Regions from separate parts of the Homo sapiens genome. Here region 1 is linked to region 2. Evidence: fine-mapped expression QTL. A gene starts in region 2. The other region holds a variant in brackets. All regions are shown on one strand. Distances are between the middles of the regions. Region 1 overlaps PIP5K1B (phosphatidylinositol-4-phosphate 5-kinase type 1 beta). Region 2 holds the start of PIP5K1B (phosphatidylinositol-4-phosphate 5-kinase type 1 beta).

What was found.
Region 1: its variant is fine-mapped to the expression of PIP5K1B in tibial artery (GTEx, PIP 0.93).

The regions. Positions count from the first base shown.
Region 1 is chr9:68,807,636-68,813,015 of GRCh38, reverse strand. The region is part of intron 2 of PIP5K1B (phosphatidylinositol-4-phosphate 5-kinase type 1 beta); the gene reads right to left. Among named protein-coding and RNA genes, the nearest start is that of PABIR1, 30 kb to the right of the region's middle. The variant C/T (reference allele first, on the strand shown) is at 2,888.
Region 2 is chr9:68,702,930-68,708,309 of GRCh38, reverse strand. PIP5K1B (phosphatidylinositol-4-phosphate 5-kinase type 1 beta) reads right to left here and starts at 3,070. Exons shown (of 16, transcript NM_003558.4): 1 at 2,548-3,070. RefSeq lists enhancers at 1,253-1,402, 1,853-1,942, 2,631-3,556 and a silencer at 2,693-3,212.

The sequences.
Region 1 (5,380 bases), 100 kb before region 2:
ATGAGTAGTTTCATGTTAGTCTGATGCTCCCTGCGCTAGAAGCATGCTGGTTTTCTCTGTCTGGAAACCTCTGAGGGTCTTCTCTTTTAACATTGTTCAAAATTCCATAATGATAGATGTGCCTTTTTTCATTCATCTTCCCCAGTAAAGAGAAACTGACAAGAAGTAAATACGTGGAGATCCAAATAGGAAGCTATGTGATAACCTGACTTAAACCACAAATAGAATTTAGGTTATCTCAATGAGGAATGAACAGGCTGCATATCTTTCAGGCAGTCCTCCATGAATATTATTTCTCCTAACCAGTCTTTTGATAAGAATTGGACAGTGGAGTACTCAAAGTTGTAGTCTCTGGCAAGAGCCTGGAATGCAGAAATTCCAATGGCCAAGTAAGGACATACTCACAAGGTTCATGTCTCCTTAGAAGATGTTACTATGTAATCTGACACAAGAGTCCTAGTTAAAACTTATTTTCAAAAATTATTTCTGATATGAAAGAGAGCTAACCTATGGTGTCATATGATTGGACTGTTTAGCACCAGCTCAGTGAGCAATAATATGTGCCAGACAATGACTTTTTTTTGACTATGTAGTTACTTATCTATTATTTCTGGTATTTAGTATCTGGATTCTGTGACCTTAAGGAATAAATAATTTATACTATTTCATAGCTTTCTATAGTTCTATGTTTTCACTCAATTTGAGAGAAGGGAAGATCATGTATTGAGCAACTACGATGTGTGAAATGCTGCCACATATGTGATTTCATTTATTCTTCAAAGAATCCGTTGGCACTCCCCAATTTAACATGTGCTATTTTGACACTTGTAAGTGTCCTATAAAGTCCATGGGATGCAGTCATTTTAATTTTGCTGAGCTGGGCTCTCTTGCTGTGAGGCTGGTTTGTAAAAGTGACGCCCTTAGTTGGTGAATGAACCTAGCAACCATCCATTCCCACCCCACGCACCTCCATCTCAGCCTGGCTTTGCCATTCTCTAAATCAGTGCTGGGCATTACAACCACCAGGGAAGCTTTTTGAAAATTCAGCTTCTGGGGCCACACACTGAAACCAGGGAATCACTACCTCTGCGTGGTAGACCTAGGGAGTCAGTATTTTCAGCACGCTTCACAGGCTTGGGATCATCTAAGCTACTGTGACCAGAAAAGGCAATAAAGAGAGTTTATCACTTCAGGATTGCTTTCAGGGTCTATTAGGGAAAACAGAAACCACTTTGGGTATATTAAAGAGGGGATATTTAATACATGGAATTGGTTATAAAAGTGATGGGTGAACTGAAAAGCTAAGCAAGAGATGGTGATGAAACAGATCACAATCAACATGATGCCACTATTGCTTTTAGGGCTGCAGGCACAAGAGAAGGTGGTGTTAACAGACCTCAAAAGCAGAGGTCAGCTGGGGTCAGAACATCAGGACGGGGGTTGACTGGCAGAAGTTGGAACTGCAGTAGGAGGGGTATGTTTAGAAGCATGGAGAAGACAGTCACTATTGGAGATGCCACCTAAGACACACAGGTTGGGGGAGAACATCCTGGTTTTTCTCATCTACCTTCTACCCGCCAATCCCTGTCTATGGCTCCCAGAGACCAACCTCATGAAAAGCATCTGAGCCCATAGGAAGCCTGAGAAATGCATCCTATATGGGATGACTTCCCTGTGATACAGAACACAGGAAGAGTAAGGAATGGCTCTAAGGACAAACGACCCAATGATGGGCCATAAAACAAAACAGAAAGTATAATGAAAGTGGGAAAGCAGTAGGGGAATAAGCCTGAGAAACATGATTCTCAATGGAAATGTGGATTGGGAGGTAGGCTAGGAACTGGTACACACGTTTCTATTGTTATAGCTCTGGGAATCCGTTAAGAGCTTAAATAGATCACTACCAAGTAGTCAGGGTCTACTGCAGCCCCTGCATTAAGTCTAGGAGGAAGGAGAGGAGCGAGGTTGTGACTTGGGATGATTTTCCTGGAGTCCAGTCAAGTGGTAGGGCTGAGATTTGATCCAGGGTTGTCTGACTTCAAAACTAATGCTCTTTCCACCATACACCTCTCTCTTTTACTTGTTTTCTCCTACTTAAAAACAATGAGAAGATTGTCTAATCAATATTGCACCGCATTTTTCAATTTGTAAGTGCAATCAAAAGGTTAGCCAATTATATTAATTTACATAATTTTTTCCTATAAAACTTGTTCTACATCAGTAAGCCTCAACCCAGAGGGCATGTCTTAATTGAAAAGGTGGTAGAGGAGCTTTTTAAAACTCTATAGTTACCGAAAGTTTTAGATATATTGTGCCTGGGGGCCATATGTGAGTCAGAAGCAACCCTTTCAACCTCTAATTCCCCAACTAGGGCCATAAAACTCAGTATTTTTAATTTGCCACAGATGAGTTTGCTTCTCATACATGGCCAAATAAGTGGGAGAATTGCTAATTACCTAATCACTTAACTAAGTAGGCCAATCTGTAGACACAAGAGGTTAAGGGACACTAGCCACGAGTCCTTACTCATCTTCCCATAAAAACAAACACTTTATTAAACACTGATAAAGTGAAGCAACAAGAATGAATTGGAAGAACGCTGGGATAGGCCTCCGAAGGCCTGGGTTTCATGTCCATCTCTGCTGCTGTCCACTTCTCTTCGATTATGAATTGCGCTAACTCCATTAGATAGTGCTTTTGTTTTGGTGCCTCTGCCAAGTTTCTTAGGTAGGGCCTCACTTCAAATCCTCTTTGGAATGAGGAGAGGACTCATTGATTATTTGGTCATTATGAGTGCAACTTGCCCTATGGGAATTGGGCTTCCAATAGGATAGCCATATTCAAATATTTTCATGCCATTCAGGCTGTGTATGTTAACATTTCCTAG[C/T]GCATTTCCCGAAAGACAAAGCAATTGGAAGATAATTTGGGCCTTGGTCACACCTGCATGTTAAAGTCAATCATTTTTGTTTTATTTATGCTCTTTTGAATTCATTTTTATTACCTAACACCAAATAAATTCACTCTTTCATTCATTCAATGAACATTTATGGAGCATAACATGTCAGGCAGTAAGCTAGGCCCGGGGCCATAATGACAAGGACAGGTACTCGTCTTCAAAGGAATCCTATTAGCAGGAGAGACAGGCATTGCAGTGGCTACAATTTACAATGTGGCATGTCCTTTACTCTGGGTTTTTGGAGGAGGAACTGCATAAGTCAGCCTGTGGGGCTCATGGAAAGCTTCACTTATGAAGAACACTGAAATTGGACTTAGAGCCGTTTGCTGGGGACATAAGGTTGAGAGCTAGAGGGTGGAAAAGAGTCTGGGCACCGTGTTGGCTTGCTTACAAAAAGACCCAGCACCGTGAAGGGTATTTAAATTTTCATGGGTGTACTCAGAGATCATGAGTCCTGCATTTTAACAATTTGCCCGCAAGTAGCCCGAGGTTTAGGATGTTACCTAAAGGGTTACCAACAGACTTCCTCATTGCTCCTTCCACCTATGATCGTAAGTCCCTCTTAAATTTTGTGCCAGAATAAAAAACAAATGTGTGGAAATTTATATGGATTCATGAAAACCTAGGGAGCTATTCTTAGGAAAACGTCAGCCTGGTAAACAGTTTTGCTGGGAAGATAGGAAGTATTATAGTTCTTCTTCTAGAGCCCTTACAAAGAGGCGTGGTATTTTTTTTAATGTGGGTTTGGCAACAAAAACAACAGTAACAACAACAACAACAAAAAGCAGGAGAAAGCAAAGGTTTAAAATGTGCTGGGTTATTTTCTGAGGCTTAAACAACAAAAAAAACACCAAACTGAAACAATCCTTAACATAGTTTCCAAAGCAGAAATGCCTGTATTTTTCAGACCAGAAAAAATTCTTATATTAAGAAACTATAGGCTTAGAGTTTTTTAAAGAATATTTGCATAAACTCTCAAAGAAATGCAGAAAATCTGTATGTTAAATATTTGTACAATGGAGGCCACTTCTACATACATATGTTCAGACATATGGTATGTTACACATTTGTATGCTTAGAAGCTGTAAAAATAGAACTATGGTGTCTTACATTCAATGTAAAGCTCTCCTATTCTTACTGATGAAAATAATTTAAATGAGGTTTCACTTCATGTATCTAATATTTATATAACCAAGCCACTGCCAAAACCAATTCCAAACGATGGCACCTGCTCGCTATGAATCCAAATGGAGACCAATCAAAACAAATTGCAGGGCTCTTATATTCTCTCATAAAACACATTCATCAATTCTCAGAATGGCTCTCCCAAAGTGAATAAACAGAATAGCTATAAATGGCAATGACAAAAGGATCAGCATCAAATGAACCACTTGTAATTCATTTTCCCAACAAAGGTTGTGCTAAAAGAATTCATAAGCCTTTTCAAGCCAAGCCTTCATTGCAAACATTAGACAGAAGAAAGTCGCCAGTGAAAACAGCCATGACGGATGTGTTGCTTTCAGACCAATGTAACTCACAGCCTTTCATGAAAAACACTGCTACTGCATGATGTCCTGCAATGATTTTCATTTTACATATACAAAGACATAGTATGTATCTGTGTGTATCTGGTGATAGTGTCGGGGTGGTGGGGAAGCTGGGAGTCGGGGGGAGTAATTAGTTAGATAGTCATGATATTTGGCATGGAGGCAAAGAATCCATGGAGATTTAACTAACACTGTTACTTTTCTATCTCTTCCCAGTCACATCTGGGATAATCACAAATAATCTCACATAGTTGAACTTCTTGCCTCTATAACTTGCTTACATTTTTTCTTCCCCTTTTGTTTTGTTTTGTTTTTGAGACAGAATCTTGCTCTGTCACCCAGGCTGGAGTGCAGTGGCATGATCGCTGCTCACTGCAACCTCTGCCTCCCAGGCTCAAGTGACTCTCCCGCCTCAGCCTCCTGAGTAGCTAATATTACAGATGCACACCACCACGCCAGGCTAATTTTTGTATTTTTGGTACAGACAGGGTTTTGCCATGTTGGCCAAGCTGGTCTCGAACTCCTGACCTCAAGGGATCTGCCTGCCTTGGCTTCCCAAAGTGCTGGGATTACAGGTGTGAGCCACTGTGCCAGCCTCTTCCCTAGTTTTTACCATACATTTGATACTGGGTAGACTTCACAATATTATATCTTTACTACATGGCAATATTTCTCATTTTTCATTCACCAGCTTATGCTTTTTGTCCACATTTTATTTCTAAGCTATTTTCCTCTTTTTTTCCTAAGAGTACATGCCTTGGGAATTATTCAATTATTACAACAATTTATGATACACTATATGCAAATAAAACCAGTTTTGATTGGCAGAAAAATGTTTGGTCTCAGAAACAAACAAACAAGTCTGTTTGCCTTTGTT
Region 2 (5,380 bases):
CCTTCATTAATTCAACAGCTATTTACTGAGCACTTACTTTATGCAAACCATAAAGCTAAAAAAAAAAAGTTATGAGCTTACAATTAGAATATTCAAGTAAGCCCTGACATGTACCTTACAGTACTTTAACCCCTCAGAATATTTTCAAGTCAAACAGTAAACTAAACAATATACTGTAGATGTTAAGCTAAAACGCACTTGTTAAGTTTCATTCCTTTGATGAAGTGGCATGTAGTAAAGGGGGGAAGGGATAAACTAAAGGTGAAAGAGTAATTAGCTAGGTCTCTTAGGTGATGTGGGGTACAAAGGTCTCCTTCCTCTAGAGAAAATGATAACATTGGATTACAAACACATTGGTAAACATCACAAAATGCTAAAGTTGGAAAGAAAAAACATAATTTCATACAAACGTTTTGTTTTATATGTGAGACACTTGAGACTTGGAAGTGATATGATGGCCCAGGTCATACGGCCAAATGTAGTCCCAGAACTAGAACCCAGGTCACTGGGGGCATGCTTAACAGTCCTTTGTGTATTGCAGTTTCCATGATGTGTCCTCATTGCTATCAGAACTGAAATGATGGCAGAATACACAAAGCAATGGACTGGACATCAGAAGATCCAAGTTCTAGTCTTGCAAATGCCACTAAATGAGATGTAAATCCATGGAAAACTCCCACTGCTTGTCTAAACCTCAGTTTCCTCATCTGTAAAATGTAAACAGTAATTTACAGTGAGACTATGCAGACCACAATAAATGCAGAAGAACTCTGCCATTTAAAAAACCACCTTATATAAGTACAGAGCAGGCACCTGGTTATGACAGAAAACCTAACTGTGATTCTAATACCAGCACTTGTTACCTTGATAAATCTCTGAATCTGTGAGCCTCATGTTCCTTCTGTGTTTACATGGTAAAAAGTCTTTGCCCTGCCTCCCTCAGAAATGTTTGGAATTAGGTGAGAACACTCAAAAGAATTTACAAATTGCAAGACACTGATGCAAATGTAAGGTGTTATTATTAAATCTCTCTAGTCTTAACGTGGACAAAAATGTAATGTGGTTCTATCATTTAGTGCTTCACAGTTTTCCTTCTCAGGTAAGATGTCATCATACATCAGTCTCAAACTCACCAGCTTTCTCATCAGTCCTCATAAGTCTCTGCCCACAGGACCATATCAGAACCACCGTTTCCCTCCGCTCAGAGATCACACATGAAACTCACTCAACCTCCCACTGGTTTACACTTGGCCGATTAAGGTTTTTTCCCAGCGTCTCCTTTCAGCTGGGAATGCTCTAGCAAAGCTTCCATGAACACTACCCTACTTCATCACATTAGAGTCCTAATGAAACCCATCCTTACTTCATCACATTAGAGTCCTAATGAAACCAATCCTTTCGCCTTTCTCCACTCCAACAGCTGCAGAACGCTTCAGTCTCTTCGCAGAACAGGGGAGAAGTCTCTGGCTGAATGTGCTTCATTAGAGGGACAAAAGGGGTTCCCCAAACCGAGACTCAGAAGTACTGACACAGAGACCGCTTCTTCCTTGCACGAGATTAACACATTCTGAGGTCCTACCGGTCCCTTAAGGATCATTCCCCTTAAAGCTAGGGCCTCCTGCATCTGAGAATGTCACAGAGAGGTAGTGATGATAGTGGGTGTTATTTCTGATCTGTAACACGCTCCCTTTAAAAAAGCATCAGAGTAACTAGGATTGCCTTGTTCGGAGCCCTGATTTCAGTAGATTCGATGAAAGAATTAATCAATCTACCCAAATAACTTCTCCGGAATAGGTTTCTACTCAGCCACGCTGGGCACCAGACAAGAGAGCTGGGGGTTGGGGGGGATAAGAAATGACAACACGCTCATCTGCATAGATGCCAGATAAGCAGACATTTGTTTTCTTCTGTTCTGGCGACTCCTGGCACCGGCATAGTAAATCAAACCCGGGCATTCTCCCTCCCCAGTGCCCCTACACTCCCAGCCCCTGCCCCAGATGTTGAAGCGTCACGTTGACCAGGCTGGGGGAGAAAGCCTGGGAAACGCAGAAGTCTGTTGCTGCATTTAGACTGGAACCATACCGCACCTGTTCAATCCGGCACCAGCGCCAGAAATGAGCAGAACACCAACTCGCAAGCCCCTCTTGAGATACCAGGGCGCCTAACAAGTTCACCGCTGTTTCGTACCGGGGGAGGGTGGTGGGAGACCTTTCCTTCCGCTGCCAAACTCTGCAGGTTCCCCGGAAAAGGGGAGAGTACTCCTATTTAAGTGAACCCAGAGTGATCTCCGAGTGTCACTGCGGCCCCGGGGATCCGGGTGACGAGCGGGTGGGTGTCCGTTGGGAGCGCGCAGCTGTGGCCCCCGCGGAACGAAGGTCCGCTTCGGTGGCCACGGGCGCCCTCTCCACGTCACCCCCAGCACAACGCAGACAGGCAAAGTGGAAGGGTAGAGAGACCGACGGGTTTCAGCAGAGATGCAGAGCCCCTAAGCGCAAGCCCCTCAGAAGGGTCTAGTGGGAAGGGGCCGGGGACGCACAGGAAACTTACCTCACCCGGGCAGCATTCGGGTGCCTCCGCTACCAAGACCAGTTGCGCCACAGTCTGCAAGTTATCGGGACGTTGTCGCTTCCCCACAGCGAAGGGAGAGCAGTGCAGGCGAGGGGCGGGAGGGGCGGGAGGGGCGGGAGGGCGGAGGGGGCGGCGGGCGGGGCCGGGGCCGGGGGCAACGCTGAGGGCGGGCAGGTGCCGGGGCTGGAGCCGCGGGGCCAAACTCGCTCCGGACGCGCCTTGGCGGGGGCGCGCGGCTACGAGTGTGCAGTGCGCGCGCGCCGCGGCGAGTGTGTGTGTCCCCGCTTTCCCCTTCCTTCCCCGCCGGTCCTCCGGCCAGACGGAGCAGCGAGCGGCCGCCAAAGCCCAGCAGCTCCGAGCGGCTCCACTGCCGGGCGCAGCCTCGCCGCGGCGCGTTCGGGGACCGGGAACCGGGGACCGAGAGGAGCAGCAGCGGCGCCCGCCGGGCTCGGGCGCGGGTTCCCGCTTGGTGCGCGCCGGAGTCGGAGCGAGGCGCAGAGAGAGCCGGCTGCGCGGCGGCTGCCGCGGCTGGGGAGGCTGCAGGCCCCGCCTGCCGGCCGCCCAGGCTCTTCCCCTTTTCTCTCCACCCACTTGCCCCATCCCCGCAAGCCCTGCAGCGAAGGCAGACCGGTTTGCAGCACCTGCCGCAACAGCGGCCGGAGCTTCAGCCGCAGTGGGCTGGGCGTCTCAGCCGGTGTGTGGGGACCGGGCGCCTGTCCCGCCGCCGCTGGCCCAGACTGAGAGCGGGGTTGGGGTGGGCCCCTGGAATTGGCGGGTGCCTCCAAGACTCCAGGGGTTCCCGGCCGTTCTCAGCGTCTTGAAGCCCTGCGAAACAGGGCTGTGGGGATAGGGCGTCCCCTTTCCCCAGGCCACAGAACTCAGCTACGCCTGGTCGCCCGCCTGCTAGACTCTGCCTGAGGCGGCGAAGCCGGCACTTGAGCGCAGGCGCCCCCTTCACGAGGAAGGGACAGGCCAGGATTCCAAGGCGTTGGTTGCTCCCATTCTAAGGACAGCAGGTGTTCCCAGCAAGTAAGACCTACCCAACAGGTAGGGGTAGGCTGGCGAGGAGGTCCTAGGAGAGAGAAGCTGGGGGATGTCATGGGAAAGCGCTGTGACGGGGCTGAGGGCCAATTCCTACTGATAGCGCTTAGTGGGCTGGGGGCACTTGCAACGTCACCTGATGTCAGTCTAGCTGCGAAGAGGGTAGGGGTCAGATCTAAAGGACTCCTTTGGGAAAATGCTATCATGAAAGCTAAAGCTAAATTCACTTAATAGGAACCAAAAGGTAGCGGATCCTTCGCGGCTGAATTGAAGCAAATGGTATTTTTCAGCCTCATCACTTCCTTCCACTTACCCTTCTTTACCAAAAACAACGCCGGTGGAAAACGTGGGATACATTCTGTCTGGGGAATAACAACATTTCATGATCCTTATCTTCAGAGATCTCTGGCTTCCAGTTTCTGTTTGAAGGATACTCCCTTAGTTCTCTGCAAATGAACACCTCTTTTCAGTTTTGTAATCTCTTTGTTTCTCTCACCCCCCACCTTGAGTGAGTCTGCTATGGTTTAATATCAGCCTTGAATCAAGTGCAATAATTTCTTGATAACAGAAGTATCTATTTTTTTTTAGCTTTACTGAGCCATAATTGACAAATAAAACAAATATCTGTTATTCTTCAGCTGTTTTCCCAGCCTGCTTCTTGCAGATGTGGCTGGCCATTACTGAGAGATTTAAGGTATGGTTTGTTTAGAACCCTGTGACTTGGGTCTGGTTTTCTCCTGGCATCCTAGACGCTTCACAGCTCAGAGCAGGAGGAACATACATCTAGTCCAGCCCTCCCGCTTTACAGATGAGGAAACTAAGGTCTCAAGACATTAAGTAACCCAAGGACCAGAACACAGTTTCCCTGACTCTCAATCCCTGAACAATAACTAGCAGAAATATTGTATTAACAAAGTTCAAGATGGGGTGGATAGACCAGTGGTGGAGGACAGAAGAACCGATCAAAGAACCGTTCATCTGACTGGTACGAATCACTGTATAGGGGGCAGCATCATACCGCTGTAACTAGCAGGCTAGTTTGGAATCTGGGAATGGTAATCCCAGTCTCTCCTTTTCCTGCTTCTCAGACTTCAGCTATGAAATCCAGAGTGGAAAATGAATTTGCCTCCCAGGGAGGCGGTGGTAAGTGAAAGTGCAAAGTCAGTTTCTGGTAATGCAGGGGAGATGAAGACAGGTAAAGCCAAACATTGGATCAAAAGTGATCACGCATTACGTATAAATGTCCAAATACATGTATCCATACACATGACCCTTTTCCCATTAATGAGCCTGGTATTGAGCCACTTCTGTAAAGCCCAAAAGCAAACAGCCTTAGGTTTTCAGAGAGAAGTGTCCAACCAGACTGCCCACTGGCTATTTAGAGAGCTAACTTTATGAAGCAGGATTCTAAGGAACTCTACCAAGAGCCTTACGATTGCATTATTACTGTGAATTGATTAATGGAATGAATGACCATGTAGTATGAGACCTGGTATTTCTTCCTGATTCTATCTCCAACTCTATCAACAGGGATTTAGGAAAGTCATCCTGTATTGGAAATAATACAACAACATCAATATCATGAGCAATAGTGACTTGGCCAGAAATTCTGGAAACCTATTTAAAAATCAGAAAATATTCATCTAATTATTTTGCTTAATTTTAAATGTAATTTTTTCAATTGATTCCTGACCTCAGTCCAAAACTTTAATAATGCTATTGAATACTCCTCTAACTATGAGAAACATGCATGGGTTCCTAGTAGTACATT